Regions from separate parts of the Homo sapiens genome. Here regions 1, 2, 3 and 4 are each reported to be linked to region 5. The links are microRNA targets in miRTarBase. Many come from high-throughput screens and were not tested one by one. Region 5 holds a microRNA gene; each other region holds the end of a gene's coding sequence.

Region 1 (4,205 bases), not on the chromosome of region 5:
GTCAAGAGAGGCAAGTCCAGGATAATAGGTAATACAAGATTATCGGGACAGTCCAAGAATTTGGAGAGCATGATACTCTGCCACAGGACACTTTAAAAATCTTCTGTTAAAAAAGTAAAGTTCTGTTGTGTTTAAAGTCTGTTATTTTTACCTAACAAACCACTGTAGGAAAACCATGTAAGAAAAACTCTATATAGTCAGTGAGCCCTTTAGCTACACAAGTTTGTTTGTTGTGTTTTCAGGGTGAATGTTTCATACACATTTCTTTTATTATAAATGTTTACCTGTTATGCTTTCTAGGTAATATATGTCCATTTTAAGTGTGGAAGCCTAGTGATCGCCTGCAGTCAAGTCTTGCTGGATTGTTTGTTTAATAAATATAAAAACTAACAATTTTCCACAGCAAAAAATTGTACACAATTAGGATTTTCAACCATGTCATATGCATTAAATGTTTCTACTTTTTTGAGATTTAGTTTTGCATTATACATACAGAGAACATATTTTGCAAAAGCATGTTTTCTTTTTTCATGTAACATATTGTGGCTTATGCAATTAGTAATTTTTTCAAATTTGTGTTTGTTCTAGAAAATTAAACAACGCAAAAATAAGCAAACAGATGGCATCCTCACCAAGGAATTGTTACATTCAGTTCATCCTGAATCACCTAACCTCAAAACTTCCCTGTGTTTTAAAGAGCAGACTCTGCTACCCGTAAATGATGCTCTTCGAACTATAGAGGGCAGCAGCCCGGCAGATAATCGTTATAGTGAATATGCAGAAGAGTTTTCTAAATCAGAACCTGCTGTGGTCAGCTTAGAGTATGGTGTGGCAAGAATGACTTGTTAGACTCATAGAGTTTTTTCTGCAATGATTGCAGTACAAGAAAAGGATTATTGTGAGGATGGTCTGTAAGCATAACCAAAAGGAATTTGTCTAATAACAATTTTAGGGTTTAACAGTAGGCTAATAGTTGAAGGAAGGATAATAACTACCCTTGTGAGAGAAATAAGTCATTTTAATTGCATTTCCAGCAAGGAATGACATTCAGTTCTGTAAGAAATGAGTGGTATTTGATGTATTTACTCAAAACACAATTTGCACTGTACACTAGTGAATTGACGTTTATGATTTATGTTAATTCAGCCAAACATAAATAACCTTCCTTAAGTACAATTTAACTTCAAGAAAACAAAATTTGACAACATAGTTTCTTAATAAATGATATGGCATGTACTTTCAATTATGTAGCTTTGTAACTATGAATATTTACATATTTTGCCTTTTAGTGATATTTAATGTTAAAGTGCCATGAAAAATATTTCTAAGAAAGCCTTAAATTCCCAGTGGATTCTTTACCCTTAAGTTTTACAGCCTACAACAAGATTTTTTGTTTTGTTTTTCTTCTGGTCAGCCTTGTTTTGTTTGTAAAGAATTGTGCTCTCATTACTGCTGGGGGTGCATGCTACAATACTTCTATATAAACACTTGTAGAAGTACACTGTTCACGTTTAGCCTGCCCCACTTTTGTATTCAAAATTAATGAAACTGAAGGTTTATTCTGATCATAATTTGTTTAGTGCTACATTTGATAATTTATTATTTACAGCTTAGAATATTGATTTCTTGAATACGTATAAGCACATTTGACTGTCTTTTATATATGGATTACTGCATTCCATTGATTCTTATTTTGTGGTTGGCTTTATTTCTTTCACAACTGTGTAAGTTTAAAGAGCTAAAGCTCTAAAACTGTTCTGAGAAACAATGAATAGTACATGTATATGTATATTTTTAAACTGCCTTATTGCTCAATGAGTTGCTGTTCCTGGAGTATCTAACTTTCAGTTTACTCAAAAACTTTTGGGTAAATAAAAAAGGGAAGTACAGATAGTTTAGGTTGTGCATGGTTGCATGAATTTTGAAGTCATTTCTATGTGGAGCATTATTTTTCTTCTTGTTAAATATAGAAAAAAAAAGAGATTCTAGTACAAAGTTACTGTTTAACAAAAGCAACATAAACTCTGGGAAAGATTTCATTTTGCCATGTTATATTTACTGTTTATTCTGTGTACTAGTACATATCTTTAAATTACCAAAAAACAAGAAACAAAACATAAAAACCCCAAAACTATCACTTGGAATTAGCAATATCACCCAACTGGCTTTAAAATTGAAAATTTAAATAACATGGTGGCATGAAGTACAATTCGAGTATTAGGCAATTTGCATAGTGTTCCTCATGCTACTTTCTGTTACACCTCTATTATATTAGTTTTGAATATAAACATCTTTTTCAGACCAAAAAAAACTTTATTGTATGAGAGCTTATCTTATCCTGTTTATTTTTCCAATGCTTTTCTGTAATACATTATGTAATTTAAAAAATATTCCTTTTTAAACAGCAACAGAAATGCACTATAAAATATAGTATGTGATTAACCAATCCTGCTTCCATATTTAAGCACTGGGAATGGAAACTTAATCTCTGTGACTACAAAGGGAAGTTTTTGTGCCTTGGTGTTCCAGTCACTGATTGTGGTTTTAGAATCTTCTGTGGCTGACTTCTTGTATTCAACTCTGGTTTATTATCTTAATCTTCAACTTCAGACATATATTTGTGTGTTTATATGCTCACAGGTGGACTGAGAAATCAGTTACATCTTAAGTGACCTACAGGGTATATGTTGGCAAAAGCAGACTGTGTATATGTCTTATAAAGTTGAATTTATGTTCAGTGTGTTTGGAAGTGTATAGCATGTAAATTACTTCATATATGATTTAAAGGTAATTAAATGTTCACATTTTACTTTGAATGTTTTTCTTCTGGATAAAACAAATGGAATCAAGTTGTAGTTGTTTTTTTTTTCTTCTCACCTAGGCAAGTAGACTTGCCCATTACATTAACATAACAGCATAAGGTTTGAGGAGTTTATTTTCCAAAAGTTTGTTGATAAATAATACCTGTTTCATACAAAAATAATTTCCAGAATATTTAAAATAGGTATAGTGGGCTAAAAGGCCCATCAGATGTAGGTAATAATGTCATTAAGTTTTCATTTTGTTCCTGTCACTTGCTTATATTACAATCACTATTTTTTTGTGCCCTTGCCAACTTGATGGAAGGCAGGGTCCATTGAGTACAAACATTCGAGGTGAAATGTCTCTCCAAAGGCAGATCTGGATGTAAATATGAGGAAGAAAATAACTGGCTGACAAGAGGATAATTTTATTGAGGGTGTTTTGAAAAGGTCAGCTAGGCTAGAAGTAGCTCAGGGAATCTTGAGTAAAGATGAAGGGAACTCTTTTAAAACAAATTCAATTTATTTGGTCGGGTAGCAGAGCAGGGAGGTGGTGTCAGTCAAGCCTGTTTTGAAACATTTTTTGCAGAAGGTCAGCTTTAAAATATTGAAAAATTTCCAGTTGACATGCTAAGTTGGATTAAATGCTGATCATTTATAAAACTATATAGTTGCTGCAAAAGTAATTGGGGCTTTTGCCATTGAAAGTGATGACAAAAACCGCAATTACTTTTGCACCAACCTAATACTACAGTTGCAGACTTTTATTAGTGACGCTGATCTTCATTAGTCAAGTTTTAGTTATTTTGTTGGCTTTTCCATGTAGAATTCCAAGTGACATTAACATACTTTGATTAATTAAAGAAAATTTGGAGACTGTTTAAGATATATGTCTAGATATCAATGTAAACTATAAGCTTTAGGAACTTACATCTAGAAGAAAGCCTGGAATCTAGAATAATTATCTCAAAAAAAAGTATATATACCATTGTACTTGATATAAGAAAATGTAAACATGAAACCTTGACATTTTAATAAACAGTATTTGTGCTACTCTAGTTATTTCTAGGAAAGTAAAATATCCATTTAAATGGCAACTTTTATAAAATAGTGGCCTGCATAACTGAAAGGAACTTTCAGAAGCTAGTAGTAGACTCTATAGCCCTGGTGTTCAGTTTCTGATTCAGTAGTTAGGGGTTGGGACTCTGGAGTTAAAATCATTTGCATACCAATAAATTGTTTGCACTTAGCAATATTTTGGATATTGTGATGCAAATGGTTGGGGAATCATACTTTGAGAAACACTGCTGTAAACCACCCATCATGGTCAGTAAACATCTTGTTTGTTCTTAAAGGGATGCCGAATTATTCTTTTTTTTTTTTTTTTTTTTTTTTTTTTGAGAC
Region 2 (4,000 bases), not on the chromosome of region 5:
TGTAATTGCACTATTTATAATCTTACCACTTGAGTTTTACTTAAGGCAATCATTGTCAATTAAAAACAAGTAGAGAAATATGTCTAATTGGGAACATGTTAAGGATGATACCAGACTTAATTAACAAGCATCACAGAAGTAATTAGACTCATTACTGAACAGTTCATTGTCTCCTGTTACATTATTAAGCCTTTTAGCAGCTTTGTGTAACATTTCATTGGATGTTTCTAATGCAGAAAATAATAGGGATTGCAAAGAGTACAATATGAAGGAAGTAAGGATTTAATCCTTCTTTTCTTGTCTTTCAGATCAAATGGGGAGCCTGCGGCCTTGTGTTGGCAGGCAATGCAGTCATTTTCCTTACAATTCAAGGGTTTTTCCTTATATTTGGAAGAGGAGATGATTTTAGCTGGGAGCAGTGGTAGCACTTTATTCTGATTACAGTGCATTGAATTTCTTAGAACTCATACTATCTGTATACATGTGCACATGCGGCATTTTACTATGAAATTTAATATGCTGGGTTTTTTAATACCTTTATATATCATGTTCACTTTAAGAAAGACTTCATAAGTAGGAGATGAGTTTTATTCTCAGCAAATAGACCTGTCAAATTTAGATTATGTTACTCAAATTATGTTACTTGTTTGGCTGTTCATGTAGTCACGGTGCTCTCAGAAAATATATTAACGCAGTCTTGTAGGCAGCTGCCACCTTATGCAGTGCATCGAAACCTTTTGCTTGGGGATGTGCTTGGAGAGGCAGATAACGCTGAAGCAGGCCTCTCATGACCCAGGAAGGCCGGGGTGGATCCCTCTTTGTGTTGTAGTCCATGCTATTAAAAGTGTGGCCCACAGACCAAGAGCCTCAACATTTCCTAGAGCCTTATTAGAAATGCAGAATCTGAAGCCCCACTCTGGACCCAGGACATTTTGATGAGATCCAAAGGAGTTGTATGCACATGAAAGTTTGAGAAGCATCATCATAGAGAAGTAAACATCACACCCAACTTCCTTATCTTTCCAGTGGCTAAACCACTTAACCTCTCTGGGTGTTACCTGCTCATTTGTTTAAAAAAAAAAAAAAAGTCTCACCTGCTTTCATGCTGAGGACAAGTTCAGATGTTCAAGCCTATAATATTTAGGCAGTTCCTCAAATTTATGAAAAGTGTTCTCAGAATTGGGAGACAGTCAAAGGGTACAAAGCCTCAGTTAGGAGGAATAAGTGTGATTTTTTTTTAAAGATCACTTGCACAGCATGCTAAATATAGGAATAATTGAATGTATATTTCAATATTGCTAAGAGAGTAAATTTCTAATGTTCTCATAAAAAAGTTAAATATTTGAGATCATATGTTAATTAGTGTAATCATTCCACCTTATATTCAAAAATCATAAAACCGTATTGTACCCTATAAAAATATACAATAATTTGTCAATATATAATCAAAATAAAAAACAAAACATACTCTCTCCCCCAAAAAAACATCTCAGTGGGGAACAGATGTATCTTTTCATCTGAAAGACAATGCTGGGGGAAGAGCTCCACTGAGATGCGGGCAGGGAGGCTGGGCTCGAGCCAGCCCCTGCGTTAGCAGGAGGGGGAGAACAGATAGGTAACTCTTTTACATTTCCTTTATGATCTGGCACTTCTCCCCAGCTCCTTCCCTCTGCCCCCCACCCCTACTCCTCAACAGTTCTGGTTTGCCCTGACTTCTCTACGGCTCTGGCTTCTTCCCGAAGAGATATAGGAGCCATGTAAGCACGCAGTGGGTGAACTGCTTAATTTCACTACGTGTTGATGTACTTGTCTTCCGTCCTGTAGGTCTTTTCTATATAACTTTATGCCACCCTTAAATGAATCATTGGGTATACCTGTCATGTTGGATCCTGTAATCACAGTTTTCCCTGCTCACCTTTTTGTCTAAGATCTATTGAGAAAGGGAAATATGGGAAGGAGAACCATTTGATCAGAATACAACCAATAGTCTTTAAGCATTGTTAAAGTATGAAACTGAAATACATTCAAAACACTTAATCCTTGAGGCTTGTGATCTGAGTAATTAGCAGGTATGATGCTGGGACTGGAAAATAGAAAGTAATAACTAAAGGGTTAATGTGCAACGTTATTTTTTGGCCTTGTTCATGATTTTATGTTTTCAGTGTCCTGTGTACATATAGAATTGTTAAAGTTGTCATTTCCAATATTTATATTAGAAAAATTATTTAGATACTTTATAATTTTAACCGGCATTTTTAATAATGACACTTGCATTTATTGTATTGTAATAAATTTCACTTTTAACTTTAAAAGTTTAACTTTAAAATTTTTTTGTGATGTTGCCTTGCCTGAAAAGATAACAAAAATGAGAGAATTTCTTGATGTTTTAAAATGGGCAGTTTTGAGCAATAATCTGTCCTAACAGAACAGTAGCAATAAGTTTTAGGATACCATCTTGAATGTCTAGTTGGTGTGCAATAGCTTTTCTTTCTAAGATGGCAATAATGATTCATTTCTACTACATTTTGCAAAAGTGTTTTTGTTGCTTATACACATTTTCAATAACCAAGGTAGCCTTCATATGTAGCCTTAAAGCATTACCTCTTGATTGTATCTTTAGATTGATATAAAGTACTTGCATATAGAGTATTTGAAGTGATAGATTATTAGATTTGCTCTATGTCTGAAAAGAGAGCTATTCTGCAGTGCCTAAATATCATTTAAACAGTAAATATTAATAGGAAATATTGCTATATCTGAATATATAATACAAAAGTTTGATCATGGTGACACAAATGTTGGACATTTTTTTCCTTATAAAAGGCTCTTTTTTTATATATTGTACAATATATTTGGAGATTCAGAGCATAGTGACTATAGTCGAAAACTGAGATTGCACTTCCAAAATTGGCCACAAGTAAATAATCTTATGAAGGGATTCTTTATCATGTTTCAAACAAGTGGGTTACAAGCAGACTTTGAGACACTTTTCCACAGAAACAATACTATGAATTGGTGATTGAGTTCCCAGGCCAAGCCTCCCTCAACAGGTTCAACTCTAATATACCTAACCTGTGATACTGAAGGTGCCTGCCTGAGTTTTGGGTCTCTGAGACAGGGTAGTGTGAGTAGTTTGGAGGAAGGACAGTGCAACTTTCCACCCCTTTTCCTAAGAACAAGGTCTTTCTCCTTTTAATTTTTCCACTCATTTTCACCTCCTAATGCCCTTGAGATCCAGGTACACTCCTGGGAGTTTTGTTCACCTCTCCCAACTGAGAACCTTCCCACTGGGCTCCATCCTCCCTCCTGAGGTTCTTCATATTCCAGAGTCACCCACCCTTCTCCTCCCATTAGTCAGTTCTCTAAGTACAGCTGATGTCATGTGGTGCTGAGAAGAAAGCAGATCACACTTCATCACAGAAAGAATGCCTTGTGATTATCTTCTCCACATCTGAAATTCCTTTTGACACCTGCATTGGGCCGACTGCCATTCCCATGACTGCTGCACCTGCGTTTTTAGAGAATGCCTCATAACCCACTGATTCTCATTCACAGAGAATGGGAGAACGGAATGAAGAAAGATTCCAGCAGCTTATAGAAGGATAGCAATATTTTGGGACAGGGAAAATCCTGTCATACCTCATCTCTTCCTCAGGAGGAGTTCTGAGCTGGTCCTGCTTTTCATAGTTGTTTCTTTTCTTCCACTTAAGAACTCATAGATTTTTCTTACTGTCCTAAGGAAGTCCTTACCTCTGAGGTATCTCCTCAATGAATACTGTTTTCAAGGCTGAAATAGTTCATTATGTTAATAACCTTCTTTATGTTCTCAGGGAAATGCTTAGGTGGTGTCACAAAATGTGCCTTTTCTTTTCTTTTTTTTTTTTTTTTTTTGAGGCAGAGTCTCGCTCTGTTGCCCAGGCTGGAGTGCAGTGGTGCGATCTTGGCTCACTGCAAGCTCCGCCTCCCGGGTTCACGCCATTCTCCTGCCTCAGCCTCCCAA
Region 3 (4,000 bases), not on the chromosome of region 5:
GTTCGGTAAGGGGCACTTGATGGTTAAAAAACACAACTGGCATGATAAAACTACACTAAATAATATCTACTTTATTTGAACAGTCATATCAAGAATGGCCCTAAATTTAATCAAGGACTAAATTTAATGAAAGACTCTGACATTAAAGACTCTGGATTGTTTGAAGGTATTTTGCCTGCAGGTGAGACTGGTTTTGAGGGCACAGAAACGTAGCCTGAATGAACCATTCAGAACTCATCATGCATCCAACTGAACACGTTTCATGCTTACTCAATTTTTTTTTTTTAAATGCAACAGGCTCAGTTTTCTCACATTGGTGCATCTCTTCATGCTAGAACTGCTTATGTCTACAGAGTCCCTGAAGAAGCAAAAATCCTTTTTTTAGCATTAAACATAGCATATGGAGTTCTTCCTCAGCTCTTGGCCTATCGTTGTATCTACAAACCAGAGTTCTTCATAAAAACAAAGGCAGAAGAAAAAGTGGAATAAAAATATTACTTCATGTTCCTCCTTTCTAAATTACTAACTTTTGTTATACTGGTACTGATATTTTGTCCCATTTCACTCTCTTCTCATACGTGAGTACTTAAGAATATGTACATTCTTGCTCTGCACTGTATGTGTGAGCTATATGGTATTGTGTAAATTTTTTTTGAAGGAAAATGGAAATTCTTGAGAAACAGTTTGTTTAAAGAAATATATTCAAAATCATTTGTGAATAAACTTGATCATCCATCTCAATATTGTTTGACATATAAAATAATTATAAGTGTAAAAAATTACAATTTAGTGCCAACAGTAGTGAGCATGAAATGAAACTATTCAAAAGAGAATATGGCCTGTGCATATTAAAAAATTCAAAACAGTGAATGCAGACTGGAGGAGTAACTTTTGCAAATAAGATGAATATGCTTCATTATTAAACTCAATATAAAAGGCAAATCATCAGAATATTTTTAAATGTTGTTTGAAAAATGTTTTCCCAAGGAAAGTTTATTATTTGCTGCTGTTTCAAGAAAATTACTTTTACTAAATTTTTTTGTGTGAATTTAAACAGCTAAATAGGGATCAGTAACTTTATCTCTATCCTTAATGAACATTTGTTTTATTGGTGGCTGGAAATATTTCTATTGTATTTCTGTGTATATTTTTAATAAAATTATTTTTGGCCTCTTATAAAGACAAATCTTATTAAATTTGAAACATTTCATATATACACATAAAACGCTTTTAAAGAAAATTTGTGAGTTGTATATTCCAATTCAAAATGCCATCTACATTCCCCTTATGTTTCAGTGTGAGCAATGAAGAGGTCTTTTGATGAATTAAATTTCATTAATTAAAAAATACATTCAAATATTCAAAATTAAAAAGGACCTTTTAAGGAAGAAGTATTAGATCGACATCCCTACTATCTTTTTATGAACTTTTCATGTTTGGGATTGTATGTTGAGTATACTAGAGAAAATCAGTATTCACTAAATGAAAGAAACACACCAAAAATACAAACAGCCACCTCCTCACTGTGCCCTGGAATGATAAATGGACTGGTGCTTTCATACCCTTAGCTGCCATCATCACCATCATCATTATTAACGGCCCTAGGCTTTTAGGTCTGCTCACATTTTCTCATGTTTTTATTAGCTCTCATCAAGAAAACCAAAAGAAAATGGGATACAAATCAATGCATGGATAATATCAAATTACAAAATCTAGGGTCCACTGGGCTGGTAAATATGTAAGTGTAAGCAAATCATGTAGTCATCTCCCCATCATCCCCTACAGTGTTTTCAAATAATCTAAAACCCAGAGAGTGTTTAAAAAAAAAAAAAGAAAGAAAAAGAAAAACCCTCACCTGCACTTGATTCTATTGTCAGCTTGCTGTGAACAATTTTTGCTTTAATATATGAATTACATTAATACCTCACGTTACATATATGAAGCCAAATTACACTAACTTAGTTTGCTTACAACCTCAAATCTTACTCCCAGTACACATTCCAATAAATTTATTCTGTAAAAACAATACATTTTTTTGTTTTTGATTTTTTTACAGTAAACTTTTCAACTACAAACCGTGAATACGCGAAAGATGTTCCAAGGACAAGCATTAACAGGATTGATAAAACCCAAACTGACTAAATGTGTTCTCACAATATAAGCTGGCATAAAAATAAATAAAATTCTCTATTATCACAATAGCAACAATAATGTACACATAATAATGGTTTAAGGATGAATATTAACTATTCTAATTGTAGTTCCAAAAGAAAACAGTTTATTTTAAAAGTCTACATTTAAAAGTCAATGCTTTGTCTGGTTTCCCATAGGGCTGTTGCTGATTCCAGCTTTAAAATGTAAAGTATCCACCTTGAGTGCTTAGCTCAAAATTGTATTGGCACTGGGAAAAAAATAAATCATTGCCTTTATTTTGGAGTAACACAAAAAGACTCACTAACTTCACATATAGAAACTTAGTTTGTGTACATAACAATATGAATTTTGAGAAGTATAAGCTGTCAACTAGCTATTTCTAATACGGAATAGATATTTTACAATATGGTTAAACTTTACACATGGCCTCAAAACTGAAGGACAATTTTAATTTCGTCTTCAATATACCAACGTTATGTATTTAGGAATTAATTCCTGGGTTCTGTCACAGAGAGGAAATTCCATTCTTAAGCATTATGTTGAGTGGTCATCTAAAAAATGTTAATTTATATTTAACTGAGTGTTTGATGATGGTGGGGTCAAGGCAGGAAAACGATGATCATAACTGCCTTGATAAAAGGATCCTAGACATGTATAAGTCTGCGCAAAAATCTTGATAATCCTTAGTGGTTAAGGGCAACTTCATGCAACCAAATAACATGAAATTAAATCAGTAACTTTTAAAAAAGGCTAAAATGTCTTTTCCCCCCGAAACACAACAGAGAGGAATATGAATAATGTACATACAAACTGGGGTTCTGTCAATGACAACAAGGACTATGTGTTGGTTCATATCAAATCCAAGAATATTAGACAACCAAACATATAACCTTCTTGTGGTTTCTCTTAATATGCAGCATTCATTATGGTAGTTAGGTCTGTAAAAAAAAAAAAAAGAAAGAAAACAAGCCTTTAGATGATTTAGGATACTAACAATGAGAGCTATCCACACCTAGATAGTACATAATTGGGTTTTCTGAAATTTTAATATGCACTGCAGCATTAACAATACTTACTGAGCAAGAGCAGCTTCTGTGGCTTTGCTTTAGACCTGTCAGTGCAAAAAGTTAAAGGAAATCCTAGGGTATTTTTAGTGTCCCATAGAAAAAAATTATAAACCTTGTCTACTGTCTGTTAGGACAGAGTGCAGCAGTGCACATTCTACAATTCTAGGACTATGTTTATTGCTGGAATACATCATCAGTGGAGAAATTGATATAATCTATCTTTGTGAGGACATTCTTCAGAAAGAAAGGTAAGCTGTGTAAAATTTAAAAAGCACTTAGAGTGTGCACCAATTAATCTTCAGAATATTTATAACTTAATTACTTGTGACACATAGCTCAAACAAATGTAGAAGTTAATCATGATGTACAAAGTCTCTGACTTCTTGCTTTTAAAAAAAACATAAAGAATAAGAGGAAGCCTAGATTTCTTTTAAAATTTAGATGGCATCCGTGTGACAAACAGAAAATAAAACATTTGTTTCATAAAAGAATTATGTTTCTATTTGGGTCCCACTTTAAATTGTGTCTGGTTCTATTTCCCCAAAAGGATGCTATTTTTTCCCCCTCATCATTAACCCAAATATATTAAACCCCCTAGTAATACCCTCATGGGATGAATGAAAGAGGGAACTCAGCCCTCAAATATTTTTTCTGAAAACAGCCTGCTTCCACTCTTAATTTCACTAAATGAATGAACATGTTTGTAAGCACATGTGCACACTGATGGGTATGTTCTCATTCAGACAGCCCAACATGTATACTAAATGGTATATATTATA
Region 4 (4,205 bases), not on the chromosome of region 5:
AAGAAGACTCCTAGGTTTCTGGCTTGGCTTACTGGATGAACAGTGATAGTGCCATTCACAGTGAAAAGGAAGAATGGAAGTAAACCCTGTTTAGGGAACACTGTGATTCCAGACTTCAAAAGTAGGGCTGGGCACATTGGCTCACGCCTGTAATCCCAGCACTTTGGGAGGCCAAGATGGGAAGATCGCTTGAGGCCAGGAATTGGAGACCAGCCTAGGCAACATGGTGAAAACCCATCTCTACAAAAAACTAAAAAATTTGCCAAGTAGGCCGGGCGCGGTGGCTCAGGCCTGTAATCCCGGCACTTTGGGAGGCCGAGGCGGGCGGGTCACGAGGTCAGGAGATCGAGACCATCCTGACTAACATGGTGAAACCTCGTCTCTACTAAAAAATACAAAAAATTAGCCGGGCGTGGTGGCGGGTGCCTGTAGTCCCGGCTACACGGGAGGCTGAGGCAGGAGAATGGGGTGAACCCAGGAGGTGGAGCTTGCAGTGAGCCAAGATCGTGCCACTGCACTCCAGCCTGGGTGACAGAGTGAGACTCTGTCTCAAAAAAAAAAAAAAAAGAAAAAAGAAATTAGCCAAGTATGGTGGTGCACACCTGTAGACTCAACTACTTGGGAGGCTAGCCAGGGGTATGGTTTGAGCCCGGGAGGTTGAGGCTGCAGTGAGCCAAGATCACACCACCGCACTGCAGCCTGGGTGACAGAGCAAGACCTTGTCTCAAAAAAAAAAAAAAAGTGGAATTTGAAGTTACAGTGAACCCCTTGTGTGTCATACAAGAACCTTGTCTATTTTTCCAAACCCATCTTCTGTCTCTTCCTCACTGGTACCTTATGGTCTAGTCATTCATGCCACACCTATTTCATCCATCCCCTCCTTTGAGTAGGTCCTCTGTAGGGCTTCTCTGATTTAGTTACTAATTCTCTGTGGTCCCACAGTTCTCCGAACATATCTATAAAGCATTGAAACTTTCTCATTCTCTAGACGGTGAGCTCCTTCATCTCTGAACCCCCCTCCCCCACCCTAAAGATCAGCAGAATACCAGGCACAGAGCATATGTCCAATAGATGATGGTTAAAGAAGTAATAAAACAATTAAACTTGCGTTGTGGAGATTTCATATACTGAGGAGTGTAATGTGGTGGAACTTTCCCGACTCTCCAAATCCCCTCGGACTTGCAGAGAAAAACGGAGGTGAGAGACCCTACCAATCAACTTGACAAGAACGACTGACTACCTATAACCCTAACTTTCGCCAGGATCAAAAGACGAAAGCCCGCAACCACCCCCGGGTCCCTCACTAGCCACCGCTTACGGTTGGCTGTAGTAACGTGGCAGAGGCAGCAGCGGAACCCCCCACGCGGCAGCGATTCGACATCCGAATCCACCGCCGCCATAGCGACTCTCCTGTACCGACAAAAACACAAGCACCTCTGCCACCACCGGAACCCACTTCGCCAAAGCTCAACGCGCTCGGAAGCAACTTCCGCCGATCCGATAGGAAGTGACATAAAGTCGTTCAATTGCGCGGACACACTCCTCCGGAAACCAAGCTCCTTCGACTCTGGGTTCCGTTTCTAGCCGCTGTCCAGTCCCCGCCCGTTTCAGGAAAAGCGGCGCGTTACGATGCTTATCTGCATGCGGTAAGCCGATTGGTGTGCTTTAAGCTGTTCAGACGTTGATTGGCCCAAAGCATCGTGAATATTCATGACAGCAGCCACAAAGGCCGGCGCCGGGTGGCATCTTGCGGCAGCTCCTTCACCCCGCAGTAGACACCCGTGCGTCTGTACCCTCGACCCTTATTTACCCGACGAATAAAGGCGGAGGATCGGCGGCTTCCAATTCTTTGCCCCACGGAGCCCAGGGCTGTCCCTGGACTTCCAACCTTTTCAGGGCTGTTACTCCCTCCCTCCGCCCCCTGTCCTCCCGCAAAACGGGTGTTCTGCGACGGCTTCTAGCCCTGGTTGGGGAGCTCTGCCACCACCGGGCACCTTCCGGACTCCACGAGGTCCTGGAGCCAGGCCCATTCCTTCCGCAGTAGTGGGCTGCGTGGTGTACGCCGGAGGCGCCAGAGCTACTGGCGCACCTCAGAGCAGTGCGACAAGACAAAACCGAGTGCCAGTAACTGAGTTTAGACACTGGAGGGGGCGAATGCTGTCAACCCCCTCCTGGTATAATTGTCAGTTCATCCCAACGCCGCCGAGGTGTAGGCTCAGGACAGGGAGGGACTACGGGGAGCTGGGGATGCCCTAGGGACAGGGACCATAACGAGGTGGAGAGAACTATCAGATGGGCTCAGCAGCTTGTGCTGTGGTTATCAGCCCACAGCTTTGAATGGCGCAAAGAGCAGTGGACCTAAGGCAGACACCAAGGTCTTTGACCTTGAACAAGTCACAACTGTTGAGGCCGTTTCCCATCTCTAAAGGAAGTGCCCAAGGAGCACACAGCAGGCTGAACTTCTTGTTCTCTATCCTAAGGTGTTCCTTCTAATGGGCCCAGCTCAGGCATCTAATCTCAGTGTCCCAAACCTTTAAGGCAGGAAACAGTGCTACAGTGGATCGGGATATCATCGAGACTGGCCTTGAGGATCCTGAAGCAGCAGGCTGTACACATACACCCAGAGGTGCTAGGGTGGTTCAGTGGTAGAATTCTCGTCTGCCAAATACACCACACAGCTAGGTGAGGGGATCCTCCTATAACCCCACCACCACCCCCAAGGGGGTATACATGTTACCCTGGCTGCTAGCAACTTCCAGAATTCCTTAAACAAAAGGGAGAGGGGAGTAAGAGGTGGGAAACAGAGGAAGAAACACCCCCATTCCCCTTTCCTATGGAGGCCACCAGTCATCCAGAAAGCTCATCTCAACTCCTTTGAATGAATCTGGGCCAAGATGGTTCTTGAGCTCCAGCACCACTGGGAGCTGGGGAGCAGTTTGGGTCCCACAAGAAGCCTAGCTGGAGCAAGCCGCCTGGGTCCAGGCTGCCTATCTCATAAAGCTGTTCCCAGGGCAAGAACCATCTGTACCTCCTTTGTTGTCCTTTGTCCTTTATTTTCCCTCTCAAAGACACCCCCAACACACACACAACACACACCCATGGCAAAGAACAGCTGAGCCAGGAGAAGCTGAAGAAAACAGCTTTTTATTTGTTACTATAAGAACCAATTACAGAATCCGAGGTTAAAAAAACGGACAAAAGATCTTTATTTCTGAGAACTGGCGTACAAAAGGCAGAGGGGGAGGGGAGGGAAGGAAAGAGCGAGCGTGGCCTGGGGTTGATGCCAGCTTAGGGGCCTCAAACTCCAATTAGGAAAGTCCGGACACCGGACAGAAAGAGAAACCCCCAATTAGGAAAAAAAAAAAAAAAAAAAAAAAAAAAGACATGGCAGTGCACGCCCCCCTCCCCCAACCAGGTACCACCACCTGTTATCTGTTTACTCTTCCCCTCCCCATCCCCTTTCACAAAGGGAGGCAAAATTTTTAAAAAATTAAAAAACCCTCCCCCCAAAACTGTCCAAGACATCTGTGGGTCCTACCCCCCAAAACAGGCTAGGTTCCCACATGGGCCAAGTTCCTGCAGTCTGTCCTCCATCGGCAAGCATGGAGGCATGAGACAAGTCTCGAGGTGGTAACACCAGAGGGCGCCCAACCCCTCCAGGGACACACACTCACTTGCTCTCTTCCTTAATTCACTCCTCACTCCCTTCGACACGAAAGGGAAGGGAGGTTTGGGTGCCCTGGGCATCCACCCTCTACCTCTCAGCCCACCTCCCTTCCCCACAGGTGCTCAGTCCTCCAGGACAATAGGCTCATTGGTGCTGGCAGGATGTGAGGGTGCAGGTAGAGGGACAGGGGGCCGCACTGCAATCAGCGTTGGCTTCACCTTCAGGGGCAAGTTGGGTCGGCGAGCAGCTCGCCGCATTTCCAGATGGGTCAGAGCCTTCCGTAGGGCCCTGGCCAGAAAGAGCAAGTGGGAAACAGAAAAGGCTTAGAGAACATTAAGACCTCCAGGTGAAGCCCCACACTGCAATTATGCCTTCTGGCCCATTCTTTTCTGGCATCCCCACCCTGCATCCACAACTTTCCTGGAGCTCTTGCTCTGATACTCCTACTCCCCACACTCACCAGCCTGGACTGTCCCTCTCAGCCCCTCCCATGGTAGACGCCTTACCTGGTATCCTTTGTGGCCACAAACACCACAGG
Region 5 (4,205 bases):
TTTCATCCTTTCACCCCCGCCCAGATTATTTTGAAGCAAACCTCATATTTCAGCAGAAAATACCTCACTATAATATATTAAAGTTTCAACAAAATATTTTAATCATATCAGTTACAGTCTTTTTTAACAGACTTTTATTTGTGTAAATTATAAATATCATAGGGGAGCATATATGCACAAACTAAGTAACCACCAAGTAGATAATAAATAAGAATTATAAGAAAGAGGGGAGATATTTTAGGCAGAACAATTTGATAAGAGGCATAAATATACAAACAAGCAAGATGCATGTGAGTGACAGGGAGGACAAAATTAACGGCAGCAGCGAACCATTTGGTTGATCTGTAAGTGGATAAAAAGGTGATGAAATATATTTAATTCATTGAGGCATGATAGACTACATTCCTGAACACAGGAATAAAGAAGATGATACTCACATCTTTTTCAAAATAATAAGCCACATCAGCTATGTCCACATCATTCTGAGTTTTTTGAGAAGAATTTTGAACCAGATCAATAGTGATAACATTATTCTCATACTGGGGAAAAAAATTGAATAATACAAATTAATACTAATATAATCAAAATCATTTGAAAATAACATTAATTGAGAATCAGAATATTCAGTGTTTGATTTTCTATAATCTACATGCATCACTGTTCCTTTCCATTAGTGGATAACTAAGTTTATCACTAATCAAGAAATCTTTGGGAGGTCTCTAAATCTATCAAAGGGAAATAAGACAGCCATGCAACCAAACATAATTACAATGTACAATTTTTCCTAAGAGGATTTTCTTATATTGAAAAGATTTTTAAATAAGATATGAAAGTATTTTATTTGGATTAGAACTACTTTAAAACTAAATTACTAAAGAAATGAAAGGTAAGGCCGGGTGCAGTGGCTCATGCCTGTAATCCCAGCACTTTGGGAGGCTGAGGTGGGCGGATCACCTGAGGTCCGGAGTTCAAGACCAGCCTGACCAACATGGAGAAACCCCATCTCTACTAAAAATACAAAATTAGCCAGGCGTGGTGACACATTGCCTGTAATCCCAGCTACCAGGGAAGCTGAGGCAGGAGAATCGCTTGAACCTGGGAGGCAAAAGTCGTGGTGAGCCGAGATGGCGCCATTGCACTCCAGCCTGGGCAACAAGAGCGAAACTCCGTCTCAAAAAAAAAAAAAAAAAAAGAAAAGAAAAAGAAATGCAAGGTAAAACGCAGCATGCATTTTCCATGTTGTTTTTTTGTTTTGTTTTTGAGACGGAGTCTTGCTGTGTCGCCCAGGCTGGAGTGCAGTGGCACAATCTCAGCTGACTGCAAGCTCCGCCTCTCAGGTTCACGCCATACTCCTGCCTCAAGCCTCCCGAGTAGCTGGGACTACAGGTGCCCACCACCACATTCGGCTATTTTGTATGTTTTTAGTAGAGACAGGGTTTCACTGTGTTAGCCACGATGGTCTCGATCTCCTGATCTTGTGATCCACCTGCCTCGGCCTCCCAAAGTGCTGGGATTACAGGCGTGAGCCACCGTGCCCGGCCATCATTTTGTTTTTAAAGAGTAAAAAAAGTACATTCTTTCTAAAGACTCTTGAATAAATTCATACTACCTTTAAAGAGTTCCGTCACACTATTCAAGCTTCTTTTTATTTTTTAAACCAGAGTTTAAAGAGTTAAGTAAGGGCTAACTAGTTAAGGACTAGTTCCTTAAAGCAGAGAAGATGGGAGCTCCAGTAACATCCTAAAGTAAATATGCACCAAAACTGTATTTACCAAAAGTAATTTTGGTGCATATTTACTTTAAGATGTTACTGGAGCTCATCCACAGGGACAGGTTCTCCAGGATAAGAAAACTCAAATGTTTTAGGGATACTAAGAGATACTACGTTTTCTTTAGGAGTAAAACTAGGCTTTTCAAAGGCTATGGAAGGAAAACAACGATAACCAAAAACAATGGGCCGGGCGTGGTGGCTCACACCTGTAATCCCAACACTTTGAGAGGCTGAGGCAGACAGATCACTTGAGGCCAGGAGTTCGAGACCAGCCTGGCCAACATAGCAAAACCCCGCCGACACTAAAAATACAAAAATTAGCTGGGCATGGTGACATGTGCCTGTAGTCCCAGCTCCTCGGGAGGCTGAGGCATGAGAATTGCTTGAACCTTGGAAGCAGAGGTTACATTGAGCCGAGATCTTGCCATGACACTCCAGCCTGGGGAAGAGAGCAATAGTCTGTCTTAAAGAAACAAACAAACAAAAAAAAACAGTAACAGGAAATTCACATTAAGTACCCAGATCCGAAACTGTTGCTCCAGTAAGTGCATTTAACCACCACTTAAATCACTGGCTGTCCTTATACTCAAAACATACTGTCTCACCAACTGTCTGCTAAAGCTCACTTATTAAAAAATCATACCAAAATACTCGTGATAAATTTTGGATCCAGTTGATAACGCGTTGTGATCTCCTTCTGAAGTGCACTGTAAAGAATTTAAAATCTGTATTAAAAAAAAATGTTTGTACCACACAACAGTAAGAAGCACTACTCTTTAAGCAGACAGCTCAGGGTCTAAAACTGTCATTAAAGTTAAAATTTTTCTGCCATTTTGCAACTATCATAATAATAATTGATTCAGGCTGGAATCATCCATTGATATTCAAACTGCTGGGTACCAGTTTAATTAGAAAAAGAACATTTACTTAGTATCCAAGTATCTGCCCATAGATTATTTATGGATTACAAAGGGAGAATGGTAACTTCACAGTGGAAAAACCTGGTGGATACCACTTTAACCAAAGTTTACTTTACTAGTAAAGGGACAAGCTGACATCATGCAACTCCTAATGTGAAGTATTATAAAGGACACAAGATCGCTTAAGTAGTTTTCCTGTCAAAAATGCATAACCTGCTTTTAGTTAAGAGGGAACATCAAGGCTCGGGTGAGGTGGCTCATGCCTGTAATCCCAGCACTTTGGGATGCTGAGGTGGGCAGATCACCTGAGGTTGGGAGTTCGAGACCAGCCTGACCAACGTGGAGAAACCCCGTGTCTACTAAAAATACAAAAAAAATTAGCCAGGCATGGTGGCGCACGCCTGTAATCCCAGCTACTCAGGAGGCTGAGGCAGGAGAATCGCTTGAATCCGGGAAGCAGAGGTTGCGGTGAGCCGTGATTGCACCATTGCACTCCAGCCTGGGCAACAAAAGGGAAAACTCCAACTCAAAAAAAAAAAAAAAAAAGGAGGAAATATCAGACAAATCAAAATTTGAGGGACATTATATATAATGACTTGCCCATGCTCTTTAAAAATAGCAAGTTCATGGAAGACAAAGAAAGGCCAAGAAACTGTTCGATATTAAGAGACTAAAGAGTCATGACAACTAAATGTGATACATGGATCTTGGACTGGGTCCTGAATCAGAGGGGAAAAATTACTACAAAGGACAATATTGGGAAAATGGGCACAACGTGATATAACGTTAAATTTCCTGGCCGGGCGCGGAAGCTCACACCTGTAATTGCAGCACTTTGGGAGGCAGAGGCGGGAGGATCACAAGTTCAGGAGTTCGAGACCAGCCTGGCCAATATGGTGAAACCCTGTTTCTACTAAAACTACAAAAATTAGCAGGGCGTAGTGGCAGGCACCTGTAGTCCCAGCTACTTGGAAGGCTGAGGCAGGAGAATCGCTTGAAACCGGCAGGCGCAGGTTGCAGTGAGCTGAGATCACGCCACTGCACGCCAGCCTGGGTGACAGAGCGAGACTCCGTCTAAAAAAAAAAAAAAAAATTTTTCCTAAATTTGATCGTTGTATAGTGGTTTATATAAAAGAATGCCTTTTGTTCTTAGGAAAACATACACTGAAGTACTTAGGGGTAAAGGGGCCTGATGTCTACAACTTGCTCTCATGTGCTTCTGGGAAAAATATTTATACATGCATAGATACACTGATGTAAAGCACACACACATATTCATCCACACATACACATATAAAAAGCAAATGTGCCAAAATGTTAATTGGTGAATCTGAGTGAAGTGTATTCCCAGAATCTCTGTGCTATTCTTGCAACTCTATTTCAAGTAACTTTATTTTTCAGAAATATAAAAAAGCATTTAGACTTGCTTTTTCTAATGGTGTAGGATGGAAGATTTGAGCCACCAACTGTGCAAGAATATGATGCATTTAATTGCACTTACGTCCGCAAACTTT

What was found. Region 5 holds the annotated microRNA hsa-miR-559 (UAAAGUAAAUAUGCACCAAAA, at 1,782-1,802, opposite strand). A microRNA usually pairs through its seed, bases 2 to 8, with sites in the 3' UTR of a target mRNA and lowers its output. Matches are read on the target gene's strand: a 7mer-m8 pairs with bases 2 to 8, a 7mer-A1 pairs with bases 2 to 7 and ends in A, and an 8mer does both.
Region 1: miRTarBase lists MTMR6 as a target of hsa-miR-559. Seed matches in the 3' UTR shown: 7mer-m8 at 2,807-2,813 and 7mer-m8 at 3,528-3,534.
Region 2: miRTarBase lists LEPROT as a target of hsa-miR-559. Seed matches in the 3' UTR shown: 7mer-A1 at 2,231-2,237.
Region 3: miRTarBase lists TM6SF1 as a target of hsa-miR-559. Seed matches in the 3' UTR shown: 7mer-m8 at 1,021-1,027.
Region 4: the mRNA of MTA2 is a reported target of hsa-miR-559. The part of its 3' UTR that is shown has no 7-base or 8-base seed match.

The regions. Positions count from the first base shown.
Region 1 is chr13:25,245,876-25,250,080 of GRCh38, reverse strand. MTMR6 (myotubularin related protein 6) reads left to right here. Exons shown (of 14, transcript NM_004685.5): 14 at 589-3,859. The coding sequence ends at 849. Among named protein-coding and RNA genes, the nearest start is that of MTMR6, 40 kb to the left of the region's middle.
Region 2 is chr1:65,431,495-65,435,494 of GRCh38, forward strand. It overlaps LEPROT (leptin receptor overlapping transcript), which reads left to right. Exons shown (of 4, transcript NM_017526.5): 4 at 309-4,000. The coding sequence ends at 425. All of the region lies in intron 2 of LEPR (leptin receptor), which reads left to right. Among named protein-coding and RNA genes, the nearest start is that of LEPROT, 13 kb to the left of the region's middle.
Region 3 is chr15:83,136,184-83,140,183 of GRCh38, forward strand. It overlaps TM6SF1 (transmembrane 6 superfamily member 1), which reads left to right. Exons shown (of 10, transcript NM_023003.5): 10 at 298-1,225. The coding sequence ends at 489. HDGFL3 (HDGF like 3) reads right to left here. Exons shown (of 6, transcript NM_016073.4): 6 at 1-3,092. The coding sequence ends at 3,087. Among named protein-coding and RNA genes, the nearest start is that of TM6SF1, 31 kb to the left of the region's middle.
Region 4 is chr11:62,590,086-62,594,290 of GRCh38, forward strand. It overlaps MTA2 (metastasis associated 1 family member 2), which reads right to left. Exons shown (of 18, transcript NM_004739.4): 17 at 4,174-4,205; 18 at 3,129-3,955. The coding sequence ends at 3,790. TUT1 (terminal uridylyl transferase 1, U6 snRNA-specific) reads right to left here and starts at 1,438. Exons shown (of 9, transcript NM_022830.3): 1 at 1,319-1,438. The coding sequence starts at 1,400. RefSeq lists enhancers at 1,248-1,943, 1,360-1,589.
Region 5 is chr2:47,375,287-47,379,491 of GRCh38, reverse strand. It overlaps MIR559 (microRNA 559), which reads right to left and starts at 1,817; the gene lies at 1,722-1,817. It overlaps EPCAM (epithelial cell adhesion molecule), which reads right to left. Exons shown (of 9, transcript NM_002354.3): 4 at 4,193-4,205; 5 at 2,415-2,478; 6 at 438-539.